Homo sapiens: one gene and its partner. The protein of the gene in region 2 purifies or fractionates together with the protein of the main gene of each other region. This does not show direct contact. Each region holds a gene or a part of one and is shown on either strand. Other genes may lie near its edges.

Region 1 (3,500 bases), on a different chromosome or scaffold from region 2:
CCTCCTGGGTTCAAGCGATTCTCCTGCCTCAGCCTCCCAAGTAGCTGGGATTACAGACACGCACCACCATGCCCAGCTAATTTTTGTATTTTTAGTAGAGACAGGGTTTCACCATGTTGGCCAGGCTGGTCTTGAACTTCTGACCTCGTGATCCGCCCACCTCGGCCTCCCAAAGTGTTGGGATTACAGGCCTGAGCCACTGTTTATTTTCATTGCATTTTAGCAGACAACACTCTGTTCTTTTTATACTAGTTTACTTTATCCCATCCATTTATATATACATATATATACACATATATGTGTGTTGTTTTTGTTTTGTTTTGTTTTGTTTTTTTGAGATGGAGTCTCGCTCTGTCGCCCAGGCTGGAGTGCAGTGGTGTGATCTTGGCTCACTGCAACCTCTGCCTCCTGGGTTCAAGCAATTCTCCTGCCTCAGCTTCCCCGAGTAGCTGGGACTACAGGTGTGCGCCACCACGCCCGGCTAATTTTTTTTTTTTTTTTTTTTTTTTTTTTTTTTTGATATTTTTAGCAGAGATGAGGTTTCCCCACGTTGGCCAGGCTGGTCTCGAACTCTTGACCTCAGGTTATCTGCCTGCCTTGGCCTCCCAAAGTGTTGGGATTACAGGCGTGAGCCACCGCACCCAGCCCATTTATATTTTTTAACTGGTCTTTTGAGGCTGTGCGTGTATGTGAGCAGATTAAATAAAAGAGTTTCCTCAGATGGCCCTATCAAGAAGTAAGCACTACCAAGAAGTAAGCACTACAGATCTGAATCAAAGTCTACCTTGCTCATTTTGGCTGGATCAGAGAAGGATTCTTGGGTTCTGTATACCGTGCTGAAACATGCAAGGCAGGTTGTGTTTTTAGGTTTTTATTAAATGAGGAAGGCAAGTTGCAGTGGCTCACGCCTGTGTTCCAGCACTTTGGGGAGGCTGAGACGGGTGGATCACCTGAGGTCAGGAGTTCGAGACTAGCTTGACCGACATGGAGAAATCCTGTCTCTACTAAAAATATAAAATTAGCTGGACGTGGTTGCTCATGCCTGTAATCCCAGCTACTCAAGGCTGAGGCGGGAGAATCTCTTGAAGCCGGGAGACAGAGGTTGCAGTGAGCCGAGGTCACACCATTGCACTACAGCCTGTGCAACAAGAGCAAAACTCCATCTCAAAAAATAATAATAATAATAAATGAGGAAAATACTGTAATATTATTTGATTATGGAGACAAACCTATTTACAATCTGACTGTTCAGATTGAATAGTTGTGACCAAACCTGGAATAACATTAAGAAATGTTCAAAACCTGTTTTAAAAAATTAAGCTGTAGAAAGGCCTGTTGTAATACAAATATCACATTAAACAAGAGTAAAACTCACTGAAAGGTACTTGTGTGATAAGTGTTGAAAAGTTGGGTTTTTGTGGGGTTTTTCTGGGGAGACTGGAGGCAGGGTCACACTCTGTCACCCAGGCTGGAGTGCAGTGGCATGATCTCTGCTCACTGCAACCTCTGCCTCCCAGGCTTACACAATCCTCCCACTTGAGCCTCCCTATTAGTTGGGACTATAGGCACATGCCACCACACTTGGCTAATTTTGATATTTTTTGTAGAGATAGGGTTTCGCCATGTTACCCAGGCTGGTCTCAAACTCATGAGCTTAAGTGATCCATCTGCCTCAGCTTCCCACAGTGCTGGGATTACAAGTGTGAGCCACCACACCTAGCTATTGTTTTTGTTTTTTTGAGACAAGTTCTCACTCTGTCACTTGGGCTGCAGTGGCACAAACACAGCCACTGCAGCCTCAACCTCATGGGCTCAGGCGGTCCTCCCTCAGCCTCTGAAAGTGCTGGGATTGCAAGTGTAAACCATTGTGCCTGGCCTATTATACTTGACATTAAAAAGAAGATTTTTGCCCGGGCATGGTGGGTCACACCTGTAACCTCAGCACTTTTGGAGGCCAAGGGAGAACCACTTGAGGCCAGGAGTTCGAGACCAGCCTGGGCAACATAGTGAGACCCCCATCACTACAAAACAAAATATTAGTCAGGTGTGGTGGCATGCCCTTATGGTTCCAGCTGCTCAGGGGGGCTGAAGTGGAAGGATTGCCTCAGCCTGGGAGGTCAAGGCTGCAGTGACCCGTGTTTGCGCCACTGCACTCCAGCCTGGGTGACAGAGTTAGACCCTGTCTCAAAAAAAAAAAAAAAAAAAAAAGATCCTTAATTGGAGAAATGTCAGGATGTAGAAAGAAAAAGTCGTCAATGAAAATGGAATATTTGAGTAAATGGAGTATTATACTCACTTGGGGAGGTTTTATTTGAGTTGGTTTATTTGAAATTAGAATCAGTGACTTTACCGGTATGAATAACCTTTAGTAATTTTTCAAACTGTGGGACCAGAGGAAATAAGACCTTTCATTGTTTGCCTGCAATAACACCAAAATATCACTGTAGTCACCTGAGTAAGTTTTGTTACAAAACACATTAATCAAAGTTCACTTTCTTTAGGCTAATGTGCCTTTTCTTACAGATGTTCTTTGCATATAGAAAAAAATCATTTACTTTGATTTATATTTCTTTTAACTTGCATTTGATCCCCTTAAGAACACGACCTCGAGATGATATCCTCAGTAGACGTGAAAGATCAAAAGATGCCAGCCCCATCAATAGATGGTCTCCAACCCGAAGAAGAAGTAGATCTCCCATTAGAAGGAGGTCTCGTTCCCCACTCAGACGTAGCAGGTCTCCAAGAAGAAGAAGCAGATCTCCTCGGAGAAGGTAAAGACATTTCATCCTTGTGATTCATTAAACTCTGAATGTTTTTGAACCACCAGTGAGCTCACTTGGTAGGTTTTCTTTTAGACCAGTTTTCTCTGAAAAATCGTAGTTGTGTTCCCATAGTTTCCTTTTACCAGCAATCTCTACACATGGGTTTTCTTTTATATCGTTTCCTTTGAATTTTAAACAAATCATTGCTCATTTAGGATGCAATAAAATTAGTCTTTTAAAAATAGGACTTTTTTCTCTCTTTTATCAATCAATACTAAATGAGCCAGACTTAGGGATTTTTTTTTTTTTTTAACCAGCAAGGTAGATCATGTAGTAGTAAATATATAGCCCAGTTTCTTACATTTTATATTAATTTTGCATATTGATAGTTACTGTAGACTTAGGCAAAGGCCTATTTAATTTGCCATAGAAACCATTTTATCTGAAGCATATGTAGTCAGTAATAGGTTAAAAAGGTGGTTTATAAAGCAGGGAATCATTTTTTAAAATTCATACATACATGAAATATTTTAATATAAAACATAAATGGGTATTTGTTTGCCAATCTTTTAACATTTTTAATTGAAGTAATAAATGAATATAATTTTTAAGAAACAAAGGCTTATATTATAGCCATCTTTACATATCTCTCAGAATTTTTGTATGCTGTATTCCTAGAAATGGAAATGCATGGTCTGAGTGCACTCTGGTCAATGAGGGGTTTTATTTTATTTTATT
Region 2 (3,500 bases):
GAAAATTGTGATAACAAGTATTTTACTTCCTTTGCTTGTAGTTCTGTATGAAATTATTTCCTTACAGTGTTACTAGTTGGTGGTGTTCTGTATGTGATTATTTGAAACTCAGTGTGTTTTCAGAAGTTGTTGAATATTCTCAGGTGGAGATGGTCATTTTTATTATGGATAATGGTGGAAGATTTTTGTCTTAGGGGGCATTCTAGATTACAGAGCACACAAACATTTCCTACTTCGGGGAGAGAGGGATGAGGTTGCTGTGTTGGAAGAGTGATACACACGCTGTGTTGGAAGAGTGATACACACACTTCCAGGCGTATGCTGATAGAGCTGTTGACAGTATGAACTTTCCCAGTCATAGTAAATCTGGGATCACGGTGGCATTTCTAGGTCCTACAAAAATGTGTGCTATCTTGGGAATGTTACCACTTCTTGCCCTGAGTGTTTCATAGAGGTGTTAAAAAAGAAAACACCCTCCTTCTACCTTCCAGTTGCGGCACTCTGGTGGGGACCTTGTGTCTTGGTTAAACAAATCACAAACAACTCTAGATGCTTGGTGACAGTCTGAAGAAGGCACGTAGATATTTGCATTATGTTTTATTACAGCATGTATTTGTGACTGAGAAACCAAAATACTTCTGAAGTATTTTCCTCTCTGAAGTAGTTGACTCTTGGCATAAAATGGGAAACTTTGAAGTCCTGTGTTTCTGTTTTTCTAATGAAATATCTCTGTACAGCTCAAAGATAAAAGTAATTACCATTTTTAAAGGATCCTTCTTTCCCCTCTGTTTTAACTCTTCCATTTAAAAAGGATTAGCACTGGAAAATTATTAGAATGGACATTCAGATTCTGTTGTGTATCTTAGTTGCCTGCTAAGAACACTGGTTCCCATCACATTTAAACTCTAAAGACATTGTGAAGTCTGGATATGCCCGGTCTCCTACTTTCTCTTTCTTTGTGGCCTTCAGATCATTAAATTTAGTGACTCAGCTAATTTTTTTTACCCACCTCTTAGAACTAAGTTGAATGTATTTGTGACCAAGCACTTAAAGTTATTTCCTCTAAACCAAGTGTTTGAGATGTTTTTAGATTTATAACAGTCTTTGTTTACCGTGTAATTCAGTCCAATTGAGGAACTAGTAAAACTGCATTATCTAGACATCAAAGCTAAGAAGAGTATACTTACACCAAGAAACTTATTAGGTTTCTAACAAGTGGAAAGTTACCAGGTGTCCCAAAATTAACCACTTCCATGCCAGCTGATTTTCACTTTTTGTAGCTATTTTAATGATCAGCAGCATTCTGGGTTTAAAAATAACAGTCGTGGCTGGGCACAGTGGCTCGTGCCTATGATCCCAGCACTTTGGGAGGCTGAGGTGTGAGTGGGAGGATTGCTTGAGGCCAGGAGTTTGAGACCAGCCTGGGCAACATAGCAAGACCCCATTTCTAAATAATAATAATAATAATAAATTAGCCAGGCATGATGGCTTGCACCTGTAGTCCCAGCTACTTGGGATGCTGAAGTGGGAGGATCACTTGAGCCCAGGAGTTGGAGGCTGCAGTGAGCTATGATTACAGCACTGCACTCCAGCATGGGTGACAGAGCAAGACTCCATCTCATAAAATAAAATAATCAGTTCTACATTATTCAGAGTTGAGTGTTGCTTTCTTTAGCATCCTTCAAATAACTGAAAATATGCCATTAAAAAATATAACCAAGGTGTTGAATGGATAATACATTTTAGTTCATTTCAAAATAGAGCCAATATCTTTATTTCTTGAGGTTTGAGAGCAGGCTGGTGTTTTGTTCTGTTTTTCCTTCAGATTTCTGTGAAGGGATAAATATTAGACCCACTTTACAGAGAACAGTTGAGTCACAGACAAGGGATGACTTGCCAATTGCATGCAGAGGTCACTTTAAGTAGGACCAGTGCTACCAAGTTGCATTTCAAGATTGGTAACCTTAAGACCTGACAGACCCTGGGGTCAGGAATTGATAGAGAAGGACTCTGTTAGATGAGGACCCATGACTTCCTCAACCCTTCATCAGCACTCCTGTCTGAGGCTCTGTTCAACCTAAGTTTCTTCATGGATTGAAACAAAATTATATGTGCATATTACAGAGTAATTGATTGTGTACAGATGCTTCCTTTAGGTATTTCAGAGGATGTGTGTAAACATGCTTTAGATATTCATAAGCATCTTATAATTTTGTTTATGTAAGCAATCGCCTAGAAAAGTAGAGGATGCGAAAGGTTTGTTTTTCTTTCCCGTGGATACCTTGCTTGTTCCTGCTGAATTCTAGAACATGGCATCTTTAGGAACATGCCATTATCTGGAGGCAATTGCCTACAGTCATTGAGATTTTTCTTTTTAAAATGTAGTTTTTGCATACTACGTCTAGTCACATTTTGTTTCCATAGAGGGTTTGGCTTTCTGGGATATCAGAAGGAAGCTATGGATGTTTGGAAAAGGTCTGTGACCTTTTGAGGTTATCATCACAGGGGACAATTGCACTCTCCCATTCATTGCTCCCTGGTGTCAGTCAGAATAATGCGTGGTGGTCTGACTTCCAGTGGCATTTCTTATGCAATAGGCTTACAAAAACATAATGAGGTCATGGCAAGCCTAGGTTCCTACAGACATAAATGAGATTCAGAAGAAAATTGCTCTGTTCATTTCAGATTCTCCTCTTTGTGATTGTCTTGAGAGAATGTTCATTTGGCTGCAGGTTCAGTGCTTGCACAGTTATATTGGAGTATCTAAGTAAACTGAAGTGCAGCATAAACTGTCGTAGCTGGAAAGTTGCTAAAGACTGTAAGCCATAACAGTTTGTTTAACTTAAGCTGTTAAAACTTTAGGTTCTTTAAGGTGCCATTTTTTTGGCCACATTCTGTGGTTCCCCATAGCCTTCAGGAAGGAATCCAAACTCTTTTTTTTTTTTTTTTTTTTTTTTAAGATGGAGTCTCGCTCTGTCGCACAGGCTGGAGTGCAGTGGCGTGTCTCGGCTCACTGCAAGCTCCACCTCCCGGGTTCACTCCATTCTCCTGTCTCAGCCTCCTGAGTAGCTGGGACTACAGGTGCCCACCTCCACACCCAGCTAATTTGTTGTACTTTCAGTGGAGACGGGGTTTCACCATGTTAGCCAGGATGGTCTTGATCTCCTGACCTCGTGATGCATCCGCCTCGGCCTCCCAAAGTGTTGGAATTACAGGCGTGAGCCACCGCGCCCAGCGAAGGAATCCAAACTCTTAAAGTGGTTTGATCCAGTCCCTGGTTCCTTGCTAATGCATCTTACCCATTCTTTCCCCACACACACTTTGTTCCAGTTGGTTCTCCCAACTGGCAGTGCTTTTTTTTGCGGAGGGAAGGGTCTGTGCACACTCTGTCCCTCTGTCTTAAATGCACTTCATACTTCAGGTCTCACCTGAGATGGAACTTCCTACAGAAAGGCTTTCCCGAATCTGAAAGGCTGGGCTTGGGGACCTTTTAATATGCT

Evidence for each region. Proteins that work in one complex are often made in the same cells at the same time.
Region 1: the proteins of ARHGAP35 (region 2) and PRP4K purify together in Homo sapiens (affinity purification with mass spectrometry, with the first as the bait; one large-scale study listed by BioGRID). This does not show direct contact.

The regions. Positions count from the first base shown.
Region 1 is NC_000006.12:4,034,800-4,038,299, forward strand, and holds part of PRP4K (serine/threonine-protein kinase PRP4 homolog), read left to right. Parts: intron 1-2,597; coding exon 2,598-2,771; intron 2,772-3,500. UniProt on the Homo sapiens protein: Serine/threonine kinase involved in spliceosomal assembly as well as mitosis and signaling regulation. Connects chromatin mediated regulation of transcription and pre-mRNA splicing.
Region 2 is NC_000019.10:46,912,997-46,916,496, forward strand, and holds part of ARHGAP35 (rho GTPase-activating protein 35), read left to right. Parts: intron 1-3,500.